Linked DNA regions of Homo sapiens. The protein of the gene in region 7 purifies or fractionates together with the protein of the main gene of each other region. This does not show direct contact. Each region holds a gene or a part of one and is shown on either strand. Other genes may lie near its edges. The genes, in order: TAMM41, LCLAT1, SAMHD1, TTK, ABHD17B, PDXDC1 and FAM174A.

Region 1 (3,500 bases), on a different chromosome or scaffold from region 7:
TGAGTTGTGCTACACATCCTGAATCAATCACCATTACGCTGTACTATATTCCCAACTGGCAGAAGACATGGGCCTGGGGACCAAGGGTAGAAAGAGAAGTGACCTTGCTTATCGTCATTCCCAGGGACCCACTTGGGAACACTTTGCTTCCTATCACTACAGCTCTAGATCTGTGGGTCTAGAGGTCCCAGTTCCCAGAGAAGGGATGCTTCTACCAGAGGACATAGTAAGCATCCCATTAACTTTAAGTTACGACTGCCACCCAATTAATTTAGAATCCCATGCCGTAAGTCCAGCAGACAAGGCAATGAGTCACTACACTGGCAGAAGCAATCGGCCCTGGTCATCAGGAGCTGGGGTGCTGATACACGTCTCTTAGAGTACCCCTTGCCCAATTTTGATGGTTAGTGGACAAGTGCGGTAGCCAGGGTCCTCCAGACTCCTCCGAGATGAGGGTCTGGGCCACCCTGTCTAGATAAGCAGAAGTGATAGATGAGGGTGAAGGGAATCTGGAGGAGTAGCAGAGATGGGAGAAGATGAGTCTCAGTTGCAGCCTCAAGGCCAGATACAGCACTGGGAGCTGTAGCTCAGTCCCCCAGTCTTATTCTTGTAAGTTTCCTGGGAAAAGAAACTGATGCGAAACTAGATCATGCAGGCTTTTATAGGCCATAGGGAGGATTCTGGATACCTTTATTTTTATAGTTAGAGAAAATTCCTAGCCCTTTTCCCTTGTTCAGTTTCTAGAAAGTTGGTAGACAGACACATTATACTTCCCTGTCCTCTAGCCAGAGAATAGAAGATCTCTGGAGAAATTCTACAGACACTGATATTTGAGATCCTCCAATAAAACAGCTAGGTCCTTGGCCAGGTGCAGTGGCTCACACCAGTAATCCCAGCACTTTGGGAGGCTGAAGCGGGCAGATTACTTGAGGTCAGGAGTTCAAGACTAGCTTGGCCAATATGGTGAAACCTCATCTCTACTAAAAATACAAAAATTAGCTGGGTGTGATGGTGCATGCCTGTAGTTCCAGCTATTTGGGAGGCTGAGGCACAAGAATCGCTTGAACTTGGGAGGCGGAGGTTGCAGTGAGCCGAGATTGCGCCACTGCACTCCAGCCTGGGCAACAAAGAAAGACTCCATCTCAAAAAAACAAAACAAAACAAAATAGCTAGGTCTTTGCCTCATAATCCTATAGTCAAGCCCACCAGTTGACAAGCCTGATATATCACAAAGAACTTCCAGCCTGTATTTTAGTGCCTCATTCTTTAAAAACAGGCCAGAGCCAGGAACGGTGGCTCTTGCCTGTAATCCCAGTACTTTGGGAGGCCAAGGCAGGAGGATCGCTTGAGCCCAGGAGTTCGAGACCAGCCAGGGCCAACAAAGTGGGACCCTGTCTCTACAAAAAAAAATTTAATGTCTCAGATCATATGGGTACAAATATATGTGTGTGTGTGTGTGTGTGTGTGTGTGTATGTATGTATATATATGTATATATGTATATATGTGTATATATGTATATATGTGTGTATATATGTATATATGTGTGTATATATGTGTATATATATGTATATATACATATACACACATACACACACACCTGTGTATACACACACACACACACACACACACACACATAAAAAAATCAGCTGGGCATAGTGGCATGGGCCTGTAGTCGCAGCTCCTCAAGAGGCTGAGGTGAGAGGATCACTTGAGTGCAAGAGTTCAAGGCTGCAGTGAGCTATGATCATGCCACTATACTGTAGCCTAGGTGACAGAGTGAAATCCCCTCTCAAATTGATTAATTCATTAATTAATTTAAAAAATCAGGCCAGGAAGGAAACTCAGACATTTGAAAAAAGCTTCTAACATAACAGACTAGAGTAAAAACAGACAAGAGGAACTAAGAGAAAGAAAACAGTGTGAGAGAACAAGACAAAATCTTCAAAAGTTATAATAAAGATCATTAAAGAGATTAGGAGAAAATAATGCATCCATAATACAAGAATAGGAAGCTATAAGAAAGAACATTTTGGGAAAATTAAAAATTTAGTAGAAGTGTTAGAAAACCAATCAGAAATATTCTCCCATAAAGCTAAATTTAATAAACGAAGAGACGAGAGAGAGAGAGAGAGAGAAAGGAAAAAAGGTTAAACCAGGAGGTCTAGCAACCACCTAACAGGAATCCCAGGAAGAACAAACTAAGAAAATGGGTATGAAGAAATAATTACAGAAATAATAAAAAAAATTCCTTAGAATTGAAGCTTATAAAATTCCAGATAGAAAAGGCCCACTGAGGCTGGGCGCTGTGGCTCACACCAGTTAACCCAATACTTTGGAAGACCAAGGTGGGAGGATGGCTTGAGCCCAGGAGTTTGAGACCAGCCTGGGCAATATGGTGAAACTGTTTCTACTAAAAACACAAAAACCAGCCAGGCGTGGTGGCGCGTGCCTGTAGTCCCAGTAGTTACTCAGGAGGTTGAGGTGGGAGAGTCACTTGAGCTTGGGAGTTTGAGGTCGCAGTGAGCTGGGATTACGCCTCTGCACTCTAGCCAGGGCAACTGAGCAAGGCCCTGTCAAAAAAGAGAAAGAAAGAAAAGAAAGAAAGAAAGAGCCCACCAAGTGACTGAATAATGAATGGAAAACAGACATAAATAAAGAAGGAAAATTATCTCCACCCTAGAATTTGATATCTAGCCAATACTATCTATCAAAGGGAGGGTAGAATTTTCAGAGGTATATAGTCTCAAAAACTTGCCTCCCTCACACCCTTTAAGAAGGTAATAAAAGACAAACTTCACTAATATCAGAGTATAAACCGTGGAAGAGGAAAATGCAAGACCCACAAAACCAAAAACTAGCACGGGGGAGGCAAAGGGAATTCTCAGGGTGATAATGAAGGGAAGGTGGAGGAGTGCGGCTGTGCAGTGAGCTAGAAAACAACCAGTTGAGAAAGGAACAGGGCAGGGGGCTCCAGGAAAAACATTCCTGTGAGAAACAAGAAACAGAAAATACCCAATAAATCTGTCTATAATGGGAAGAGTTTTACGGATCTGTCAAGAGTTTGAGGATGACTGACCTAAGCAACTGAAAAAATAAGACAACTATTAACTCCAGGAGAAACAAAGTTGTACAGGAAAAGGAACTTCATAATGCCACAGCTCATCAATAAAGAAAAGGCTGTCACAATAAAATAAACATTGAATATTAAGCTAACAAAAAATATGAAGTAACTTTATGTGAAGCATGAGGGCGTGAGGTAGAAGGGGAAGAGAATGTGTGTGCTAAGTGCATGTGTGTGAGTGTGTAATTGGTATAAGAATTGATGGGGTAGTGTAAGACGGTAAAAAAAATCCCCTTCTTCCAGGATGGCAAAAATAAAGTGTAAGATTGAAAAAAAATCAAGAAATAATAGTCGAAGCATATTATTTAGAACATGGAGGTGAATATCAGAAGAATCAGCTATAGAGACGAAAGCAGCTGCCTCTGGTAAGCAGGGCTG
Region 2 (3,500 bases), on a different chromosome or scaffold from region 7:
CACACACACACACACACACACACACAGTAAATCAACTACAAACACCCTTGCTAGTCTATCCTTACTAGTCTATCCTGTGAGGGCCTGCCCTTTGCCCTCACAAATCATAAACCACGTCAGTATACTAATAGAGGAATGGTTTAAGAGGGTACATAGTTTAAGTGAGAAATGTTACCTAGGTAAACCACAGAAGTATAAATGTAATTAACAAGGCTGTCAGGAGGATATAGTGGGTACTTCATATACCCATGTGAATAACTGGTTTGAATATATTTATAATCTTTCCCCTCCCTTTTTCACATTAAGTAGCAAGTTGAGAAAGGAGGCCATTTATTTTTAACATGCAATGTTGAAATATCCCTACTTCTCCAACACACAATGAACATGTTGTATTCCTAGCCATTTAAAATAAACATTTCCAGGAACTTTAATATTATATTATACAAGCGCGATAAAAACATTTTTTAAAAAAAGTTATAGATTGGGGAAGTTCAGAAAGTACCAGCACCTAGCATAATGAATGCTTCGAACCTACATATTCAATTAATACTTACTACATGAATATGAATGAATCAGTCAATGTCAAGTACTTTATCAGCACAGACCAGTTTCTGGCCGAAATCACAAGTACTACCTGCAATAAAAAGTTACTAAACTATTAATTCATATCCTTCAATGCTGTGGTCCTCAGATACTATATATCCATTTCCTTGAGAACAGTTTATTTTCTCTTTCAGAGTAATATTTTTTAAAAACAGATTAAAATAAAGTCATCTGCCATAGCAGATCCACTAAAGACAAAAGAACCAGAGATTGTTTTTGGCCCAGTGAGGAAAAAAATGGAATCGCTTTAATGCTTAAGTCAGTTTTACAGTGGGTGCATTACATCTAAAATGAATGAACCACTTAAAATAATGTGTGAATAACCTACCAAATCCAGGAACACCTTTGAGACTCGCTTTGAGGCAAATTTTCTCCAATCTGAGGTAGCTATATCGCATCAGGCAATTCCACAGGAACATCCAGTCCATTCTTGTCCGATGGTTCATGATAATGACACTTCTTTCTCCAGGAACAAATGCATCCCCAGTTATAATCACTTTTACACCAAACATGGTCTCCAATAATGCCTAAGAAAACAATACAGATATACAGCAAATTAAAGTTATGATTTTCCATAGGTAAATTTTATCATGCCCTATAAATAAATCTTATGATTTCTAACATGTAAAAGTTAGTATTTCCCATGATCCTTGCTTCTATAATAAAAAATTGAGTGGTGAGGTTATCTAGAAGAATGAGAATATCAAGCACTATTTCTATTTTAAGCTTCTGTGATGTCCTAATTAAAAAATGCTGATTGTCCTTGAAATCAAGATATCTTATTAAGCAAAAAGTATAAAAGGTGAATATCAATATTCTACTGTGTAATATTTTAAGGATATAGATATGTAACATTATTACCTTTTTTTCTAGAAAGAACAGTCAAAGAATTAGCACTGGGTACAGGGGAAAAAAAAAAATCCCGGAAAGGTAAACTGTTCACTTTATAGCATCCTGTACTATGATGTTTTAAAAACAAAAACATAGATCTTATTTATTTTGACACTATGTAAAGAATAAATTAACTATACATCTACTAAAATACTACAAGCCTTAGTACCTAGAAAATAGTAATGTTCAAATAATTGCTGAATTTCCTTAATTTGCTTTTCTGATGGGCCAGGTATATAATACATATGAAGTATTTAGAAAAACAATATATTATAGACTTATGAGTTCTTGAAAGTAAAATAACAGATTACAATAAAAGCTGATTATTGATTTCAAACTCTTCTTTGAATTCTCAATTTACATGTAACAAATTTACTAGTTAATATTTGACTTATTAATAAAGAGAGAAATTGATCTAAAGGCAAATATACGATACAGAATCAAAAGTTCTCTTGGCGAATATCATGATAATCTTGAACAAGGTATAGCCAATAGACAAACTGTGGTATACTCATATAATGGAAAAATGATACAACAATGAAAGTAGATGAACTACAAGTACCTACAGCAACATGAAAGATACACAGAAGCATAATTTTGAAAGACAGCAAAACAAACAAAAATATATACAATAAATGTCAATATATAAGACTTTCTAAAAGATTAAGATATTTTAAAGATGATTATATAGATGCTAAAATTATAAAGAACAAGAAGAAAATAACTATCTTAAAAGTCAGATTAATGAATACTTCTACCAAAAGGAGGATGTTTTCATTGGAAGTCTAGGTAGCTTGCTGGAGAACTGACAATGCTGTATTTCTTGACCTGGTTGACAGTTACACGCAAAATTTTTCATTAAATTGTACATTTGTGTTTTAATAACTTTTCGGTATGTTTGCTATACTTCACAACAAAAAGGCATTTTTTTAAAAATGCAATATGAAACAGTAAGACTTTGAAAAACATAACAGGATCAATAAAACATAGGTTCAAAATAATATTAGCTAAAGAAATATACTAGAAAGTAAAAAGAAGTTAGAAAAGTTATATGTCCAAATTGTTACAGAGTCAAAGTGTTAACATCCTGATACAAAATCATTTGGGCTAAGTAGCTACAGATATCCCATAGGTCCATTAAGTTACTTTCCCACAGCTGAGGTTCACTTTCAGCATGGGTATTTAATCCAGTTATCTATTATGTCCTAGAACGATGGCCTCCAAGAGGTCAATAAAAATGTATTTCTCTTAAGCTGTATATAAAGATATGTCAATGTGTACACATACTTTGCTAGGTAAAATGCTTGCAGTTTTCATCAAATTTTCAAAAGGGTCCATAACCGCTCAACTAATTATAACCCCTACTCCAAAAAGTCCCTTGAAAGTGAAATACCTACATGGAAGACCTCCTGGTAAAAAGGATCATGGCAGAGTCCTACAGGTGTGGATCCACAGCAAAAAATGTCCCTTTTTCTTTTTTTTCTTTTGAGACGGAGTCTCACTCTGTCGCCCAGGCTGGAGTGTAGTGGCGCGATCTCGGCTCACTGCAACCTCTGCCTCCCGGGTTCAAGTGATTCTCCTGCCTCAGCCTCCCGAGTAGCTGGAATTACAGGTGCCCGCCACCACACCCAGCTAATATTTTGTATTTTCAGTAGAGACAGGATTTCACCACGTTGGCCAGGCTGGTCTTGAACTCCTGAACTTGCGACTCGCCCGCCTTGGCCTCCAAAAGTGCTGGGATTACAGGCATGAGCCACCGTGCCCGGCCAAGAGTTAAAAATCTTAAGCCTATAAATTCCAAACCTCAAATCTAAACCTATATATGCAATCTCTAATATATGATACCTATAGATCCCAAACAATCCTTTGCTTTTCATTATGAAAAATAACATAAAAAATCCAAGACTGGGATGGGTGTGGTGGCTCACATATGTAATCCCAGCACTTTGGGAGGCTAAGGCAGGAAGATCGCTTGAAGCCAGGAGTTTGAAACTAGCCTAGGCAAC
Region 3 (3,500 bases), on a different chromosome or scaffold from region 7:
ATGAAGTGGAAGAAAGAAAGAATAGAACCTTCTAGTTTATCTCATATTCCCAGTCAGGTATCTGTTTATATTTTACAGATTAATAAAATTGCTTTGCTTTGTTTATAAATAGATTTGGTGCCTATCCTAAAACTTCCAGTGGGTTTTCTTGCCTTCCAGTGGCCATATAAAGGGCGTCCTGAAAACAAAAGCTTCCTTTATGAGATAGTATCTAATAAAAGAAATGGCATTGATGTGGACAAATGGGATTATTTTGCCAGGTATGCACTGAACACTTCTGAAAAGTTGGCTAAAATATTTATATAAATTTAGTATTACTATTTAAGGTACAGCTTCCTTGTTGAAAAATTTCATCTCTCTGTTTTGGAATCCTTCTAGGGACTGCCATCATCTTGGAATCCAAAATAATTTTGATTACAAGCGCTTTATTAAGTTTGCCCGTGTCTGTGAAGTAGACAATGAGTTGCGTATTTGTGCTAGAGATAAGGTAAGCTGTGCCAGAGGAGGCAATAAGAAGAATGTTGTTCCTGGTCTGAAATTTGGAAATAACCATTTAACAATTTGGAATAATTGGTAAATCGTCAGTCTCTTTACTTAATTCCTAGGATTTGTAAATATCTTTAGTCTCTTCCCTTCTACTGCATTATTAAATAATAATAAAATTAACATGGACATTTATTAAGTTTTGAGTTAGACACTGGTTTTGGGGTTTTTTTGTTTGGTTGGTTGCATTTTTTTTTTTTGAAATAGGATCTCACTGTGTTGCCCAGGCTAGTCTTGAACTCCTGAGCTCAAGTGATCCTCCCTCCTCAGCCTCCCAAGTAGCTGGGACTACAGGTGCACACTATCATGCCTGGCTTGTATGAGGCATCATTTTAAGTGCTTTGGACGGATCAACTCATTCCGTATAACCCTGTGAGATAGATACTATTATTCCATTCAACAGGCAAGCAAATTAAGGCACAGAGAAGGCATATAATTAACAAGTGGTAGAGTTGGAATTTCAACCCAAAAAGTTTGGTTCCAGAGTCTCTCTCTTTTTTTTTTTGAGACGGAGTCTCGCTCAGTCACCCAGGCTGGAGTGCAGTGGCACGATCTCGGCTCACTGCAAGCTCCGCCTCCCGGGTTCACGCCATTCTCCTGCCTCAGCCTCCCTAGTAGCTGGGACTACAGGCACTCGCCACTATGCCCGGCTAATTTTTTTTGTATTTTTAGTAGAGACAGGGTTTCACCGTGTTAGCCAGGATGGTCTCAATCTCTTGACCTCGTGATCTGCCCGCCTCGGCCTCCCAAAGTGCTGGGATTACAGGCATGAGCCAAGGTGCCTGGCCCAGAGTCTCATTTTTAATCACTGTATTAGTGTTGAAAAATTTTATACAGTTGACACCTGAACAAAATGGTGTTTAGGGGTGCTGTCCCCTCTCCTAGTTGAAAATCTGTATAAAACTTTTCTTTACCTTTTTTTTTTTTTGGAGATGGAGTCTCCCACTGTTGCCTAGGCTGGGGTACAGTGGCATGATCTCGGCTCACTGCAAGCTCTGCCTCCTGGCTTCAAGTGATTTTTCTGCCTCAGCCTTGTGACTAGCTAGGTTTACAGATGCATGCTACCACGCCCAGCTAATTTTTGTCTTTTTAGTGGAAACAGGGTTTCACCATGTTGGCCAGGCTGGTCTCGAACTCCTCACCTCAAGTGATCCACCCGCTTCAGCCTCCCAAAGTGCTGGCATTATAGGTGTAAGCCACTGTACCTGGCCTGCATATAACTTTTGACTTCCCAAAAACTTAACTAAATAGCCTTCTGTTGACCAGAAGCCTTATTGATAACCTTAATGGTCAGTTACACACATTTTGTATGTTTTTTGTTTTCTTTCCAGACAGGGTCTTGCTGTGTTACTCAGGCTGGAGTACAGTGGCACTATCATAGTGCATTGTAGCCTTGACTTCCTGGGCTCAACTGATCCTTCCTCCTCTGCCTCCCGAGTAGCTGGGACTACAGGCCTATGCTTGGCTAATTCTGAAATTTATTTTACAGAGGTGGAGTTTCACTGTGTTGCCCAGGCTGGTCTCAAACTCCTGGGCTCAAGCAACCCATCCACCTCAGTCTCCTAAAGTGCTATGATTATAGGTGTGAGCCACTGCATCCAGCCTATTTTGAATGTTACGTGTATCATATACCATATTCTTTTTTTTCTTTTTGGATACAGGATCTTACTCTGTCACCCAGATTGGAGTGTAGTGGTGCGATCTCAGATCACTGCAACCTCCACCTTCCCAGCTCAAGCAAATCTCCCACTTCAGCTTCCCGAATAGCTGGGACCACAGGCGCATGCCACTATACCGGGCTAATTTTTCTATTTTTTTTTTTGTAGAGACAGGGTTTCGCTATGTTCCCCAGGCTGGTCTCGAACTTCTGACCTCAAGCAACTTGTCCTCCTTGGCCTCCCAAAGTGCTGGTATTACATGTGTGAGCCGCCACGCCCCATCTACTGTATTCTTACAATAAAGTAAGCTAGAGAAAAGAAAATGTTATTAAGAAAATCATAAGGCAAGGCCAGGCGTGGTGGCTCACACCTGTATTCCCAGCACTTTGGGAGGCCAAGGTGGGCAGATCACCTGAGGTTAGAAGTTCGAGACCAGCCTGGCCAACCTGGGCAACATGGTGAAACTCCGTCTCTACTCAAAATACAAAAATTAGCTGGGCGCAGTGGCGAGTGCCTGTAATCCCAGCTACTTGGGAGGCTGAGGCAGAAAAATAACTTGAACCCGGGAGGCGGAGGCTGTGGTAAGCCGAGATTGCGCCACTGCACTCCAGCCTGGGCGGCAGAGCAAGGCTCCACCTCAAAAAAAAAAAGAAAGAAAGAAATTCATAAGGCAGAGAAAGTATATTTACTATTCATTAAGTGGAAGTAGATCATCATAAAGGTCTTCATCCTCATCGTCTTCACATTAAGTAGGCTCAGGAACAGGAGGGATTGGTCTTACTGTCTCAGGGGTGGCAGCGGGGCAAGGAAATCTGTATAAGTGAACTCTCACAGTTCAAACATGTGTTGTTAAAGGTCAACTGTAGTTAAACAGCTGAAATCACTAGGTCCCTGTTAGATGGCAGTCATGTAATCAAAAAGTAGTATAGTACTATACTATAGAAAGTCAAGAAGGGCTAGGCGTGGTGGTACATATCTGTAATCCCACTACTTCGCAAGGCTGAGGTGGGCAAATCTCTTGGGCTACCGAGTTTGAGACCATCCTGGCCAACATAGTGAAACCCTGTCTCTACTGAAAATACAAAAATTAGCCAGGCGTGGTAGCATACACCTGTAATCCCAGCTACTCAGGAGGATGAGGTACGAGAATCGGTTGAACCTGGGAGGTGGAGGTTGCAGTGAGCCAAGATTGTGTGCCACTGCATTCCAACCTGGGTGACAGAGCGAGACTGTCTAAAAAAAAAAAAAAAAGTCAAGAATGAAGAACATAAGAATAGTAATACCTATTTCCTAGAGTTA
Region 4 (3,500 bases), on a different chromosome or scaffold from region 7:
ATTGCTAACTGAATTAGTTTTTTACTTTGAAGATGTTTTAAAGCTTGTAAATACTTGAGGATTTTGGACACAAGCTCCGCATAGTTCTATAGTATATGTGCTTGGGTTTAAAGTTGTATTGCTTATTTATTATTTCCAATGGTCTTGTCTGAAGGGTTGCATAATTTAAGCAACCTTTGAAACTGTATACATACTTTGTACTTATATAAAAATTTATTATAATCCAGTAATTCTGGGGAAAACAAACTTAAAACTTACATTTTTTAATTTTATATTTTCACAAGTTGGGAAGAATTTAATATTTTGTCTTAATTGCAATATTTTAATTATGAGGTTATAGAAAGATTTAAAGTAAAGCTCATATCTTCTGATGGAATAACCAACTGAAATGAAAACTAGAAAAAGATGTTTTGTCATGTTAACATAATGTAGTACACATTCATTGAGATTTAATTATGATTTTAAATATGTATATTTAATATATATGTTTTTTCATTTTATATGAAAATAACAGCAACTTTTTTGTGTTTGTTTGTTTTTTTCTTAGATAAGCCCCAAAAGTGATGTTTGGTCCTTAGGATGTATTTTGTACTATATGACTTACGGGAAAACACCATTTCAGCAGATAATTAATCAGATTTCTAAATTACATGCCATAATTGATCCTAATCATGAAATTGAATTTCCCGATATTCCAGAGAAAGATCTTCAAGATGTGTTAAAGGTAATATTAATTTCATGTAACTAATTATTTACTTAAAAGAAATAGTTGAAATAATTGGAATTATGTAACTGGCTTAGATATAACTGTTCTATTCAAAAGAATTGCTAACTGAATTAGTTTTTTTACTTTGAAGATGTTTTAAAGCTTGTAAATACTTGGGGATTTTGCAAAAGTGCCTTGGGAGAAATAATCTTGTCATAATACTTTAGTGGGATATCTAAAAAGTAACTTTTATAATATAATGTAATCTGGAAAAATACTTTATCAATATCATATATGAAAACCTGCTTTGTTTTTCTTTTAAAATATCTTTGTTTTAATAGTGTTGTTTAAAAAGGGACCCAAAACAGAGGATATCCATTCCTGAGCTCCTGGCTCATCCATATGTTCAAATTCAAACTCATCCAGGTACTACTTCTTTAAAAATTTGTTTATTACTAGATTGGTAGTATAAACAGTCTGTTACCTATTAATATAACAAAGACAGAATCTAAATTGGCTACCCTTTGTCAGCCTGCCTTTTTCCTTAAGGAAGTTCCATTATTATAAATAGTAAAGTAAATAAACTTTTTTTTCTTTACTTCTGGTATTTATTTTTACTTATTCCAGATAACGGGTTATAATCAGTGATAAATTATAAGAATATCACTTTGTGCTATTAAACAAAATGTGTATTTACAATGGACTTATATTTTTCTTACTGGTACTAGTGTATTATTGATTTATTTTATAGTTAACCAAATGGCCAAGGGAACCACTGAAGAAATGAAATATGTTCTGGGCCAACTTGTTGGTCTGAATTCTCCTAACTCCATTTTGAAAGCTGCTAAAGTAAGTATGTCTATTCTTTACATTAATTTTTACTGTTTTATATAGTGAATTCGACACTTAAGGAAACAGGTAGTCTGAAGAAAAGTTGGTCCAATCATCAGATCAGTTATGAAACATGTTTCTACATTTAGATACTTAACATGTGCATTTTGACAAATATCGATTTACTTGATTTATATTCTTCTTCTGCATACAGTACAGTTCAAAGTAGATCATCACATAAGGTGCATTCAAAAGATTGCTGTCACGTCTCAACTGGAATACATTTAATATAGGAATATAGTGTGTCTTTTAATTCAGCACCATTATTAATACAGCTTTTGAATTCATTCCTTTTAGCCAGTTTTTTCCTTAGAGACATTACATGTAATGGCTTTTTTGAAGCTGTACACAGCAATCAACACAATTCTCAAAGCACAAGTCTCAAGCTTTTTAGCTTCCCAATGTCCATTTATATCTATACCATGATTTTTCAAACACCTAGTTATTTCTAGAACCCTGTGAATGCTTATTGACCAACTGATTTAGCCAACAAGCAGTTACTAATTATGTATTTCAGTTACAACATTATCATAAAATTATGGGAACCTAAACTATCAATACTCGTAGCTCTCTGGATACATATAAAATCCATCTAAGTTGCCAAGAACTTGAATACATTTTTTGAAGGAATTTACTATATATTCACTATATTTGCATTTATATGATATGAGGTACCTGTTTTCTTAAATTTTCTCAAATGCTAATGGCTAAATCAATGGATTTAGTAATTAAAAGTGGACCAAATTTGTTTTGTAATTGCTCTGTATTTTGTATCTCCATGTTTTAAGTTTATACTAATATATTATTCAAAGCCTCTTATAGCTATAGTTGAGGTGGATTATTTTTATAACTGAAGTTGTATGTTCCTTGAGGGCAAAGATGTCTGCCATCTTCATAAGTTAGATGTTAGCTGAGTCTTAAATCATTTTTAAATACATGGATTTTAATATATATCTAATTATTATATTTATATAATTTGTAATGTCTTCTATTTATTAGCTTATTATCATCTGAGAATATAAAGTTTCCTAATAAATATATTTTGTATAGGAATTTACCTAAGACTGGCTTTATTTAAGAAAAAGTAAAGAGATAAAGAAGGCCTTGAAGGCTCATATGTATGTTTATTAGTAGCTCTGTTATATTTCTCTCATAGAAAGATTGAGTTATATCTCATGATAGGTAATGCTTAAGGCCAAGCTTCGTGTTTAAAATTCTTTATTATCTCTAATAGTTTATAAAATAATTTCCCAACTGTAAGAACAAGAGAGAAATAAATGTATTATATTTAGAATACATCAAAATACATCTACTGATGTGACAGTACATTTAACTAAAAAATTGCAAAACAGATTTGTGTTTTTTAATTTCAGACTTTATATGAACACTATAGTGGTGGTGAAAGTCATAATTCTTCATCCTCCAAGACTTTTGAAAAAAAAAGGGGAAAAAAATGATTTGCAGTTATTCGTAATGTCAGATACCACCTATAAAATATATTGGACTGTTATACTCTTGAATCCCTGTGGAAATCTACATTTGAAGACAACATCACTCTGAAGTGTTATCAGCAAAAAAAATTCAGTAGATTATCTTTAAAAGAAAACTGTAAAAATAGCAACCACTTATGGCACTGTATATATTGTAGACTTGTTTTCTCTGTTTTATGCTCTTGTGTAATCTACTTGACATCATTTTACTCTTGGAATAGTGGGTGGATAGCAAGTATATTCTAAAAAACTTTGTAAATAAAGTTTTGTGGCTAAAATGACACTAACATTTCAAAGTTGTAAGGTTGTTTTCTTTAAGCAAATGTATTGTTGGCATGGCAGCAAAATTCTTAATTAGTAAAAAGTAGATTAGGGAAGATGTGAGACTAGACCTTAGTAAATGAACTTTGAAA
Region 5 (4,003 bases), on a different chromosome or scaffold from region 7:
GACTTTACAGAAGTCCTGCTAAAGATAAACAGCAAAACAAGTATTTTTACATTAACCAAATATTTTTATCTTCAAAACAATTGTTACAAAACAGAAATTTCACACAATACTAGTGAGGACAGCCTAAGACAGCTTAATCATTCACATTTCCTCTATGGGCTTGGGGTTTTTGGAAAAAAAAATCGTAGCTGCATAAACTTGGTGTAAAATTTGAAAAAGCCACTCATGCCACAATCCTCGTTTCCCTCTGCTAATGTGATCCAGATGGGAACGCTGAACGACGTAACTGCCCCATCTGCACCTTAGATTTCATTAGGGTCCTGTTCACTCTGTGCAATTAGTTAAGTGTGCTGACCATCAAATATTTACCAGGAGACAACATGTCCAGGTCAAAGAAAGGGCGTGAGAATAACATTTTAGAAAGAGTTGCACTGCAGCCAAGACTAACTCTGGGCTGCGGTCCACACTCGCCCCAGCCGACTCCTCTCATTTCCTCTCTCCCCTCTCCAGTGAGCCATTCCTTCCTGGAGTCAAAGACGGTGCAACAGGCAGGTTCCTACCTTGGTCTGCACACTTTTATCGAACTTGTCATTTTTGAAGCTAAACGTATTCTGGTGCTTCTGAGGTCTGGAACGAGCCACGTTGCCTTTCTGGGAGCTCATCGCCGAAATCAAAGCCACCCCTCGCCGGGAGCAGGCAAAAGGATGAGGGGAAAGAAAACCAACGAACTACTCCCAGGAATTGACGCTTCTGTCAATGACCCGGAAGAAACAAACGCAGCCTTTCCGCCCCGGCTCTGGGTCAGCCCACGTGACTCTTCTGGGAGGTCAAAGAGCATCGCTCTGCCCTCCCTGCTGTTAAGCCAAGCCACTCCACGCGGCGCAGCCTCGACCCCTCCGGCTCCGCGCAGCCTCTTTCTCAAACCCGGAGAACAAGTCCCACTTTCTTCGAAATGAGAATTCCCCCATTGGCCCGAATGTGTAGTCCATCAAATCAAAGGGGCGGGGAACCTTTGTTCCTATTGGTTCTTCTTTTCCGCAATCCCCGCCTCCTGCTGAGCGAGCTCAGCCTCTCCTTGAGCTCAGAGCGCCTCCCACCCTGCCGGGCGGCCTCTGATTGGTGGAAGTGAGGCAAGGCTGGGCTCCGTCTCTCCCCCCGCCCGCTAGTAGGCTGGAGCCGGGGTCAGCTTTGGCACCTTCCTCCAGTCAGTGGCCAACTCCTGGCTCAGTGGGGATTGTGCTCGTCCCCTCCGTTCCCCTCCAGTCTTCCTCCCGCTACCGGAACGAGCCTCGCGCTTGGCAGGCTGAGGAGGAGCAAAGAAAGCAGGATTAAAGAGAAGGAAGACCTGGCTAGGTCTGGGTGGCGTCTGCAGTGCCAGAAAGGGAGGCGGTGGCGGCGGCGGCTGCGACCACGGCCGCGCGGGACGTGAGGCCCGAGAGCAACCGACGGGCAGCGGCGGCCGCTCCAGCGCCCCGCACCGGGGCCGTTAGTCAGCAGAACGCGAGCTCTTGTGGAGGAGCAGGGCCGGCGCGAGGCGAGACTCGGGAGCGTGAGCGGGGCCCCTGGGGCGCCGCCGTCCTTCTTCGCCCCGGCGCCGGGGGCTGTAGCCCTGGTCCCCGCTCCTCTGTCGGGCCAGTCTGCAGGCGGAGAGAGTCGGACGGCGCCCGGAGCGCGGATCTCGCCTTGTGGAGGACAGCGCGTCGGCTGCGGTTCTCTCTCGACCCCTTCTGCCCGGCGCTTCGGCCCGGGCCGCTCAGGTGCAGGTGCGTGCGGCCTCGGGGTTTGGGGACGCCGCAGCCCGGCTCGGGGAGGGGGCGCTAGGCCGGGAGCCGCAGCGCGGGAGGGACGAGCCCGGGCCGGCGGGGGGAGGGGAGCGGGAAGCGTCTTTGTTGTTGGCGACCGGGATCCCTTCTCGGCACAGGGGAAAGGCGGGGAAGCCACTCCTCATCGGGTCTGTGTTTTTGAGAGGATTCTCTGATGGTTGCGTGAAGGGGAGCGGTAGGACAGTCCCTGCGGTCCGTGGAGCGGCCGGAGTCAGGGGGTGGGGGAGGGAGGACCGACCGACACTCTAAGAAGGTCTTTGGTCCTCCTCGGTGAAGAGAAGGGTTCCATTTCATTTCCTTTGCTTTTCTCTCAGTGGATGAAAAGATGGGGTCAGGTTCCCATTCCCCTCACTGGCGCACTGAGAGATTCGCGGGTGCCTAAAAGCTTTCTCCTGAATGTCCTTATATCTCTGTCGGGCGCGATTTTAGATTGAATCTGCACGGGGCTTGGCGATTTGTGTATTCCGGTGGGGCTGTCGTAGGGTTCTTTTTCTTTAGATGGTTGGGCTTTAATCTTATTTGTTTTCGAACTCTAAGGTAGGCTTATCAGGAATCGTTTTTGAATTGGAAAATTTAAAGGTTTTGTTTGGGATTTTTTTTAACCCCGAAACAAAGTTATGTCAAATTAGATTGTACTGTGTGGGGGCTCTCGTGAAGGAAAGAGTGTATTTAACCTGGGGTTTTTGTTTAAAAAAAAAAAAAGTTCAGATCTTTGATCTTTGGTGAGATCTCTGCCAATGCCAGAAGAGAATTTTTTGTAAATGATGCTTTAAGTCAGTGTGAAGTAGATTTGGTAAGCAAAAGGATGAATAACGGAATACAGAGGGTGACCTTTAAATTTCGCTGTTTATGAAATGTGTTCCTGTTTAATACTTTTTGTGATATATGATGCTTGATCTATAGATGATTCATTTGGAATTTTTTTATGCCTCTAATAAATCTTTGGAGATCTTGTGCCAACATATGAAACTATAATACCTAATGAGTCGGAGTAGAAAGCCAGATACATGTTGTAATAACGTTAATCTGTTTAGATTAACAGGGAAATTTACATTAAAATGAACTTTTTTCCGTAAAGAGTTTCTCTACATATGTTTATAGCATGAATTTCAGTTGGGTGACATCTAATGATAGCCAGTATTTTGAAAATTGTCATGATTGCTAGTATTCTAATTTGAGACTGCTCAACTTGTTGGTAAGTTTTTATTTGGAGAATAGGGGTCGTGTTACTTAAGGAACAGCAGAGGTAAAAATCTCTGTTGTGCAGTAATTGTCATATCATTTGAAATCCAGAAGGAAATGAATGGCACCTTCACCTATATTTTGACCTCTCTTTTCTCCTACTCTAGTGTTAATAAGGTTAATTGGCAAGGACAGGATTAGATTTTTAGCAGGCTAGGCAGTTTTAATTTTGTCCCTTAGTGTGCAGTATTCTAGTTGATGAGTAGCTTGTTTCCTTGAGTATCTTTGCCCATTTTGAAATGTTTATGAAATGACTGCTGACAAAGAATTTTCTGTTTCCTGGGACAAACAAAATCACCAAAAAACATCATGAAAAAATAATGTTTTTAGTAGCTTAATGAACACAGAAGAATTAAGCAATTAGTGTCTGTTCCAAGTTTGACACTGAATTGGTCTACAACTCCAGGCACGCTATCCCACATCTGAGTCAGTTTTCTCCATCTGTAATATAGGGCTGATAAAATGTGCCACCTGCTCACTTTATAAAAAGGGGAGTGAGAACCATGTAAGCAACAGTTACTCTGGTTATGTGACATTGATATAAGTTAAATGAGAATACTTTTTAATGCAGTGCTCTTACTTTGTTTTGATATTATGAATTTCAATCATTTGATGAACAGTTAGCATAAAGATAAGGAGAATGACTCTCCCTATGCCATCATTTAAGAATTAAAATTTCTTCCGTATTAAGATTGGTGTTAAGATCTTTAGAAGCAGTGATGACAAGAAAATAGAGTATATTTTATTGGTTGGTTTATTTACTGGTAGATTTTACTTCTGATTTATCCAAAGTTTTGCTCTTAATTCTGAAAATTCCCCCTACCCTTCCTACTCTTTAAAATTTCTCACATACATTGCCCCATTTGCCTGTCGAATCCAGCCTTGTGAGTTGGAGAGAGGGAAGGTGAGTTTGTGGCCTTTTTTTTTTTTTTTTTTTT
Region 6 (3,500 bases), on a different chromosome or scaffold from region 7:
AAGTAGCTGCAGAAACTCCAGCCTTCTTTCCAGCTTCGTGGTCAGCTGGAAGTCCTAACAGAAGTCTCGTATTGAACCAGCCACTGTGGCCAGGGAGAAGTAATCCTCTGATAGTTGAGGTTCTTTGCTCTCCTCTGGAGCAGATAGTGGTGTCTCCTCCCCACAAAGCTCATGTTCTGCTGGAAGAAATGGAGATGGCGCCCTGGAAGGCTATTGTAGGGCCATTAAGAGAAGCAGGGGGAACGGACGTGGGCAGCCAGAGTAGCCCATATCCACCACATCATACAGGGAGGTTTCTTTTTGATCCCTAAGTAAAGAATGATAACTGGAAAATAAGATCCATGAAAGAGAAGAATACTCCCATTATATTAAATGAGCGGGGATAGTTCCTGAGACACATTTTTATTAAAGTGCATTTTCAGGATTTTCCTTCATATGTATAAAGCACACCTTCTGTTGCTGTTAATGAAAGCTAATAACATTAAAAATATACTTAAGTGTCAACTTGCAACAGCACAGCCTTTATTTTTTTAAGTACATGGTGAGTAAGCAACATTAAATAATTAGTTCTTGGACTGGTGTTTTTTCTTCCAGTGTGAATCTGGCAACATTGGCTCTGGGTTATGTCTCCTCATCAGTGCTGGTATGTTGTTGATTTACTGAATATTGGTGTTTTTAAGAATGAATTTAAAGTCACTCAGTCCCTCATGGCTCTTCACAGTTTTTATGAATGGAGGAGGGTGTTAGGTTTGTGTATTCTGATAATCTAACAAAGAGTTGTTCTTGTTTTGGTAGGCTGCAGCCAAATGTGATAGCATGACGATGACTCCTGGCCCGTGGCTGGGTTTGCCAGCTGTTCCTGCGGTGACACTGTATAAACACGATGACCCTGCCTTGGTAAGTTTCCACTCACTGGGGAGGGAGTGGGTGTGGCTAATACACATTATTGGCTTTGGGGGCAAAATCCAGAAAAATACAGGAAAAAGTGAAAAATACCCATAATTTCACTTCTATTTCATTTTTTTAAAGAGAAACTTGTGAGACTTTTTTTAATGACATTTTATGATTGTATAATATTCTGTCACAATTTAATTATTCTCCATTTATGAACTTATAGGATGTTTTCAGAGTTTTGTTACTGAAATAATGAAGCAGTGAACGTCTTTCTGTGTTTCTAATTATTTCCTTAGAATAGGTTCCCAGATGTGGAATGACTGAGTGGGGGAGTTTTAAGCCTCCTGATCCACATTGCCCAATAGGTTTTAACTTTTTTTTTTTTTTTTTGATATGGAGTCTCGCTCTGTCACCCAGGCTGGAGTGCAATGGTGAGATGATCTTGGCTCACTGCAACCTCCACCTCCTGGGTTCAAGTGATTCTCTTGCCTCAGCCTCCCAAGTAGCTGGGATTACAGGCATGCGCCACCACGCCCGGCTTATTTTGTATTTTTAGTAGAGGCAGTGTTTCACCAAGTTGGTCATGTTGAACTCGCGATCTCAGGTGATCTGCCTGCCTCGGCCTCCCAAAGTGCTGGGATTACAGGCATGAGCCATCACACCTGGCCACATTTTTTTTTTTTTTTAATCGTAGTTGTGGGCCAGGCATGGTGGCTCATGCCTGTAATCCCAGCACTTTGGAAGGTTGAGGCAGGCAGATCGCTTGAGCCTAGGAGTTTGAGACCAGCCTGGGCAACATGGTGAAACCTCATCTCTATAAGAAAAAACAACAACAAAGAATTAGCTGGGCATGGTGGTGTGAGCCTGTAGTCCCAGCTACTCATGAGGCTAATGTGGGAGGGCTGATTGAGCCCTGGAGATCAAGGCTGCAGTGAGCTATGATCACACCACTGCACTGCAGCCTGGGCGACAGAATGAAAACGAAACCTGTCACAAAAAATAATAATAATAATGTGGTTCTTGATAATATAGGTCAGCGTGCAAAATAAGGTTTAAGTGATTTCTGCTAAAACACTGCTGTCTTGCTCAGCTAATAATGGCCAGGTGTTTGAGGATGCTCAGAGCTACCTTCGAAGTGGGGAGTCTCCTAGGTTCTGGGATGTGACCCATCTGGGTTTTCCACTGGCTTTTCCTGGCTTTGCCACTCCTGAGCTGTGAACCCTTGGACAAACCGAGGTCTCTGAGTGAAGTTACCTAGAATACTTAGCTCACAGAGTTGTTGGAAGATCACATGGATAATGCAAGCCTAGTGACTAGTATGGCATCTAGCCCACACTAAGTGGGTAGCAAATGGTAGCTGGTTAGTTCTATTATGAGATTGCAATGGCTTTGATTAATAAACCTCTTTTGGCTTTTTTAGACTTTAGTTGCTGGTCTTACATCAAATAAGCCCACAGACAAACTCCGTGCCCTGCCTCTGTGGTTATCTTTACAATACTTGGGACTTGATGGGTTTGTGGAGAGGATCAAGCATGCCTGTCAACTGGTGAGTAGAAGCCTGACATTTAAATGAAAGACTCCTTGGCCACAGCAGAGACAGAAAAACATCTCATTTCTGTACCTTCCATCCAGAGTGGTGTTGTCTGGATTGACTGTCTCGTGAGCCAGAGACTAATCGCCCTGCATGTAAATATTTCTTGTTCAAAGTTCTGGGAGAAAGTGCTGGGTTGTCTGTCCCAGCATTTGTGTGCAGATGAAATCAGATGAAAAGGAACACCACTGTCAGCATGGGATCAGAAAAGAAGTCACAGATGACTTCCAAGGAGTGGAGAAGGGTGCAAAAGGTGGAGGGGTGGGGAGCGAGTGTTCCCCTTGATTGACTGACTACGGTGAGGGAATAGGAAGGTTACAAGGTGGTTATGGAGGGCATGGATATTTTATAAACCAGCTGGCTTGGGTTTCCAAATTGCAGGGCTCTTGGGGACAATTCTAATTCTCTCTCCATTTTAGGTGTGTTCTAATTGTGAAAAATATATAATTATGCTATATTTCAGTGTTTTAGAGCATTCAGGCTTCTATAACAAAATACCTTAGAGTGGGTAATTTATAAACAACAGACATTTATTGCTTACAGTTCTGGACGTGAGAAGTCTCAGATCAAGGTGCCAGGAGATTCCATGTCGGGCCCGTTCCTCATAGATAGTGCCTTGCATGTGGCCTCACATGGCAGAAGGGGTGAGCACAGTCCCTTGAGCCTCTTTCAGAAGGTCACTAGTCCTGTTTGTGAGGGTTCCATCCTCATGCCCTAATGACCTCCCAAAGGCCTCAACTCATTTGCGATTAGGTTTCCACATAGGAATTTTGTGGGGACATAAATATTCAGATCATAGCATTTAGAAAGCAAAAAAACAGGCTGGGCATGGTGGCTCACGCCTGTAATTCCAGCACTTTGGGAGGCTGAAGCGGGTGGATCACAAGGTCATGAGATCAAGACCATCCTGGCTAACACGGTGAAACCCCGTCTCTACTAAAAATACAAAAAATTAGCTGGGCGTGGTGGCGGGCGCCTGTAGTCCCAGCTGCTCAGGAGGCTGAGGCCGGAGAAT
Region 7 (4,165 bases):
GTTTCTGGCTCTCTCTCTGTATATATCTACCTGTATCTGTCTCTCTTTTAGCAATGAAAACAATAACTTACTCAAAAGACCCACGTATACCCTTGACAGGCATCTCATTGGTGAGAGGTACATCATGCGGCCACTTCTAGTTATCTGCACAAATTGAAGTTCCATATTACTGAAGTCAAACAGGCAAGGAAGACATTATTGAAGACTACTGCTGTTGGGAAAGGGGATAAAACTCTTCTAATCTCAACTCCTCTAAAAGAAAAAAAGGAGTGGAGAGTTATTAAGAGCTATTTTGGGAAGATCACCGGCCACCTGAGTTTGCTGATTGACTTTACCCAAAGGAAAAGTAAATTTTCTCCTCCATGACAGGAGGTGGTTTTACAACTTGAAGCGAGAAGCCTACAACAGTTAGGTTCCTTTCCTCTCACACAAAATAAGAGATGGCCCACTACCTTCCTTGCTGATTATATTTCAAAGGCATGATGGCTTTCCATACCCTTGAGATAGTTTTCAATTATATAACTGGCCAGAAGCTTTAAAAAATATTTACATCTGAAAAGGGAAGAGAAATAACTTACAATGGTAAAGTTTTCTAAAGTAATTTTTTTTAATATACTTTAAGTTCTAGGGTATATGTGCACAACGTGCAGGTTTGTTACATATGTATACATGTGCCATGTTGCTGTGCTGCACCCATTAACTCGTCATTTACATTAGGTATATCCCCTAATGCTATCCCTCCCCCCTACCCCACGACAGGCCCCGGTGTGTGATGTTCCCCATCCCGTGTCCAAGTGTTCTCATTGTTCAATTCCCACCTATGAGTGAGAACATGCAGTGTTTGGTTTTCTGTCCTTCTAATAGTTTGCTCAGAATGATGGTTTCCAGCTTCATCCATGTGCCTACAAAGGACATGAACTCATTACAAGCAAATGCTCTTTAGAAAGGGAGGTCAGGGACCCATAGGCAGGAAAAAAAGCCTGCTTAAAGCTTGTAATGAAGCTAAGGAAAACTAAGCCCTTCTGGCTTACAGATTAAATGTGTTATTGCAGTTTGACACCAATGAATTCAGATTATGAGTTTCCAATCTCTCAGGGTTCCTGCATGAGAGAGTTGCTGTACATTTTACACAATCTCTTTTTGTCTACTTACTTTCTTAATACGCATCCTTGACCGCTCCTCACTAACAGTGAAAAGAACAATGCTTCCAAAACGGTCACGTCCTCGCTTTTTACACAAGTGCGCGTGCGCACTGGGCGCTAGGCCTCTGACGTCACCAAGTGCATCCGCCCCTACAAGTTAGCAACCGAAGGCGTCCTTAGCAGCAGTGGCCGCTGAGATGTACGAACTTCCGGTTCTCCGGGCAGCTGCCACTGCTGTAGCTTCTGCCACCTGCCACGACCGGGCCTCTCCCTGGCGTTTGGTCACCTCTGCTTCATTCTCCACCGCGCCTATGGTCCCTCTTGGAGCCAGCGTGGCGGGCCTGGCGGCTCCCGGGTGGTGAGAGAGCGGTCCGGGAACGATGAAGGCCTCGCAGTGCTGCTGCTGTCTCAGCCACCTCTTGGCTTCCGTCCTCCTCCTGCTGTTGCTGCCTGAACTAAGCGGGCCCCTGGCAGTCCTGCTGCAGGCAGCCGAGGCCGCGCCAGGTCTTGGGCCTCCTGACCCTAGACCACGGACATTACCGCCGCTGCCACCGGGCCCTACCCCTGCCCAGCAGCCGGGCCGTGGTCTGGCTGAAGCTGCGGGGCCGCGGGGCTCCGAGGGAGGCAATGGCAGCAACCCTGTGGCCGGGCTTGAGACGGACGATCACGGAGGGAAGGCCGGGGAAGGCTCGGTGGGTGGCGGCCTTGCTGTGAGCCCCAACCCTGGCGACAAGCCCATGACCCAGCGGGCCCTGACCGTGTTGATGGTGGTGAGCGGCGCGGTGCTGGTGTACTTCGTGGTCAGGACGGTCAGGTGAGGCAAAGCCTCGGTGGGGCACCCCCGTGGGCCTGAGATACGCAGGCCGGTGATCTCCAGCAAGGCTGACTTCTGTGACCCTTTCCCCCTTCCCCAGCATCAGGGACTCCTGCTTAAGAATATGATATTGACTTTCTTAAAGGCCTGTTACCTTTGGAGCAATTTAAACCTATAACTAATTGCTGCCTTTTGTTTATAAATGAGTGCCCTACCTCCAAATCTCTTCATCTGACCTACAACCCACGTCAGCCTCAAAGGGCACCCTTTCTCTGAAGTGAGGATAATCTTTATTCCCTAGAATTTTGACTACTCTGTCTTGTAATACTTCTACCTTTCTAGTCTAAATTTTTGTATACCTAACTGGTCAAAATTTTGCCAATCAGAATGCAAACTCTTTAAAGACAGGATATCTATTTAGTAGGTTTGTGAGTCTTACAAATTATTTGTACAATGCTGCCACTTAATAGGAAATCAATATATATTTGAGTGGATTAATAGTAATATAGAGGTGCCTTATGGATATTTTATTTTTATAAAATTCAGGAGAAGAAAAGTTCTTCCTTACTATCAGTGTTTCCTAGTATTGCCCTTTAATCTGCCACCTAAGTGGCAGAGAATCACCTTCCTGAAGAGTTGACATACAGAGCCAAGACCTCACCATTAGGAGAAGCCAGCAAAGAGATAAGGTGAGGGAAAGCTGTCTAGCAGTTTATTTCATTATAAAATAAGTGTAGAGGGTAGGTTTGCAGCTTATGTTTGTTTATTGTTTTCAAAATTCACGTTTTTCCCATAAATACCCTCTGTATTGTAATTTAACATATTTCTTTAAACTGATTATTTAAAGCAAAAGTTTCCTTTTAAACAAGTCGTTATTATCATGAATGGAAAACCAACATCACTTGGCTAGTTAAAAAATAGTGTAAGCCAGTGGTTCTTGACATGTGGGCCAGGGAACCACACAGGTGGGAGTTTCACTTAGACCTCTTCAGGGCATCTACAGTATTAAAACTATTTTCAAAATAATACATTCTGTTACAGGCTTATAGGGTACAAGTAGTTCATTGATATTGTTTCAGATTCCACATTGCAACTAATCTTTAAGAAACTGCTTGTCAAGTTTTGGTGTAGTAGTATCATAAAGGAATAACCACTCATATATAAAAAGGCTATTAAAATGTTTCTTTCCATTCCAAGTTTATATCTGTGCGAAGATGGAATTACTTTGTATGCTTCAACCAAACAACACATTGCAAAGGATTTAATGCAGAAGTAAATATAAAAATCTATCCATTTCCTATTTTTTGTTTCTATTTTTTATCTACTCCTATCACCTTAAGCCAGATATTAAAGGGAATTGGAAATAAGAATCTAAATGTCATTCTTTTTACGTTTTTTTCTTTTTTGAAAATATAGTTGTTTTTCATAAAAGTTATGTTAACTTGTAATGTGTTTACTATTATTTTAAATCAGTTGATAAGTATAGGTTTTCTCAAGTTTAATTAATATGGTAAAGTTGATATGTGTAATTCACATAAATATAAGTTATTTTGGGTTCCTGAACAATTTTAAGAATGTAAAGAAATCCAAAACAGCAGGCGTAAGCAATATTTGAGAACCACAGCTGTAAGAAATATTATTTGAGCTAGATATTGTTGGTTCACAAAGGCTAGCAAATCTGCACTCACACTCTAAGTGTTAAAAGCATATTACCACCAAACTGAGACTTTCTTCTTAATATAAAGAAAGATTAAAAGAATATTGAAACAAATTATTTTCCTCACTATATAACTGTTATTTACTGCTGTCTGTACATAGTTCCTATAAAAATGCATGGCCCCTTGAATGTTGTATCTCTTATACATAAAAATGATAAGTATAATGATAATTTGGGGGGAATATTCCTTCCTTGTTTTTTTCCTTTTGCTTCCACCTTTTTAATTATTTTAAATACACATATTTATTACCATTGATTTTCTGTCATTAATGTTGTAAAACTTGGACAGATACAGTCCTTCCAATATGATCCTATTGGATGACTTGGTAACATGATGTGTGTTAACAGCCAAATTCTGAACTATGGCTAATAAAAAGTGCATTCTTTAACCAGCATCTAACATATTCATGCAGTCCAAGTCCTACATTTAGTTGGCTGCCTGGCATCCAAAGCTTGAATGATGCTAACAATGTCTGGGCAGTGTTCCGAACT

Evidence for each region.
Region 1: the proteins of FAM174A (region 7) and TAMM41 purify together in Homo sapiens (affinity purification with mass spectrometry; 2 studies listed by BioGRID and IntAct, with this or other methods). This does not show direct contact.
Region 2: the proteins of FAM174A (region 7) and LCLAT1 purify together in Homo sapiens (co-immunoprecipitation; 2 studies listed by BioGRID and IntAct, with this or other methods). This does not show direct contact.
Region 3: the proteins of FAM174A (region 7) and SAMHD1 purify together in Homo sapiens (co-immunoprecipitation; 2 studies listed by BioGRID and IntAct, with this or other methods). This does not show direct contact.
Region 4: the proteins of FAM174A (region 7) and TTK purify together in Homo sapiens (affinity purification with mass spectrometry; 2 studies listed by BioGRID and IntAct, with this or other methods). This does not show direct contact.
Region 5: the proteins of FAM174A (region 7) and ABHD17B purify together in Homo sapiens (affinity purification with mass spectrometry; 2 studies listed by BioGRID and IntAct, with this or other methods). This does not show direct contact.
Region 6: the proteins of FAM174A (region 7) and PDXDC1 purify together in Homo sapiens (affinity purification with mass spectrometry; 2 studies listed by BioGRID and IntAct, with this or other methods). This does not show direct contact.

Annotation. Positions count from the first base shown.
Region 1 is NC_000003.12:11,812,386-11,815,885, forward strand, and holds part of TAMM41 (phosphatidate cytidylyltransferase, mitochondrial isoform a precursor), read right to left. Parts: intron 1-3,500. UniProt on the Homo sapiens protein: Catalyzes the conversion of phosphatidic acid (PA) to CDP-diacylglycerol (CDP-DAG), an essential intermediate in the synthesis of phosphatidylglycerol, cardiolipin and phosphatidylinositol.
Region 2 is NC_000002.12:30,530,746-30,534,245, reverse strand, and holds part of LCLAT1 (lysocardiolipin acyltransferase 1), read right to left. Parts: intron 1,131-3,500; coding exon 932-1,130; intron 1-931. UniProt on the Homo sapiens protein: Exhibits acyl-CoA:lysocardiolipin acyltransferase (ALCAT) activity; catalyzes the reacylation of lyso-cardiolipin to cardiolipin (CL), a key step in CL remodeling.
Region 3 is NC_000020.11:36,913,709-36,917,208, reverse strand, and holds part of SAMHD1 (deoxynucleoside triphosphate triphosphohydrolase SAMHD1), read left to right. Parts: intron 1-159; coding exon 160-260; intron 261-378; coding exon 379-487; intron 488-3,500.
Region 4 is NC_000006.12:80,039,149-80,042,648, forward strand, and holds the end of TTK (dual specificity protein kinase TTK), read left to right. Parts: intron 1-547; coding exon 548-724; intron 725-1,047; coding exon 1,048-1,132; intron 1,133-1,457; coding exon 1,458-1,555; intron 1,556-2,970; coding exon 2,971-3,054; 3' UTR 3,055-3,379; downstream 3,380-3,500.
Region 5 is NC_000009.12:71,908,394-71,912,396, reverse strand, and holds the start of ABHD17B (alpha/beta hydrolase domain-containing protein 17B), read left to right. Parts: upstream 1-1,203; 5' UTR 1,204-1,763; intron 1,764-1,880; exon of another isoform or gene 1,881-4,003. Other genes in the region: uncharacterized protein C9orf85, read right to left, coding at 561-662. UniProt on the Homo sapiens protein: Hydrolyzes fatty acids from S-acylated cysteine residues in proteins. Has depalmitoylating activity towards DLG4/PSD95. Has depalmitoylating activity towards GAP43. Has depalmitoylating activity towards MAP6. Has depalmitoylating activity towards NRAS.
Region 6 is NC_000016.10:15,016,526-15,020,025, forward strand, and holds part of PDXDC1 (pyridoxal-dependent decarboxylase domain-containing protein 1), read left to right. Parts: intron 1-594; coding exon 595-643; intron 644-795; coding exon 796-897; intron 898-2,314; coding exon 2,315-2,440; intron 2,441-3,500.
Region 7 is NC_000005.10:100,534,009-100,538,173, forward strand, and holds the start of FAM174A (membrane protein FAM174A precursor), read left to right. Parts: upstream 1-1,365; 5' UTR 1,366-1,522; coding exon 1,523-1,956; intron 1,957-4,165.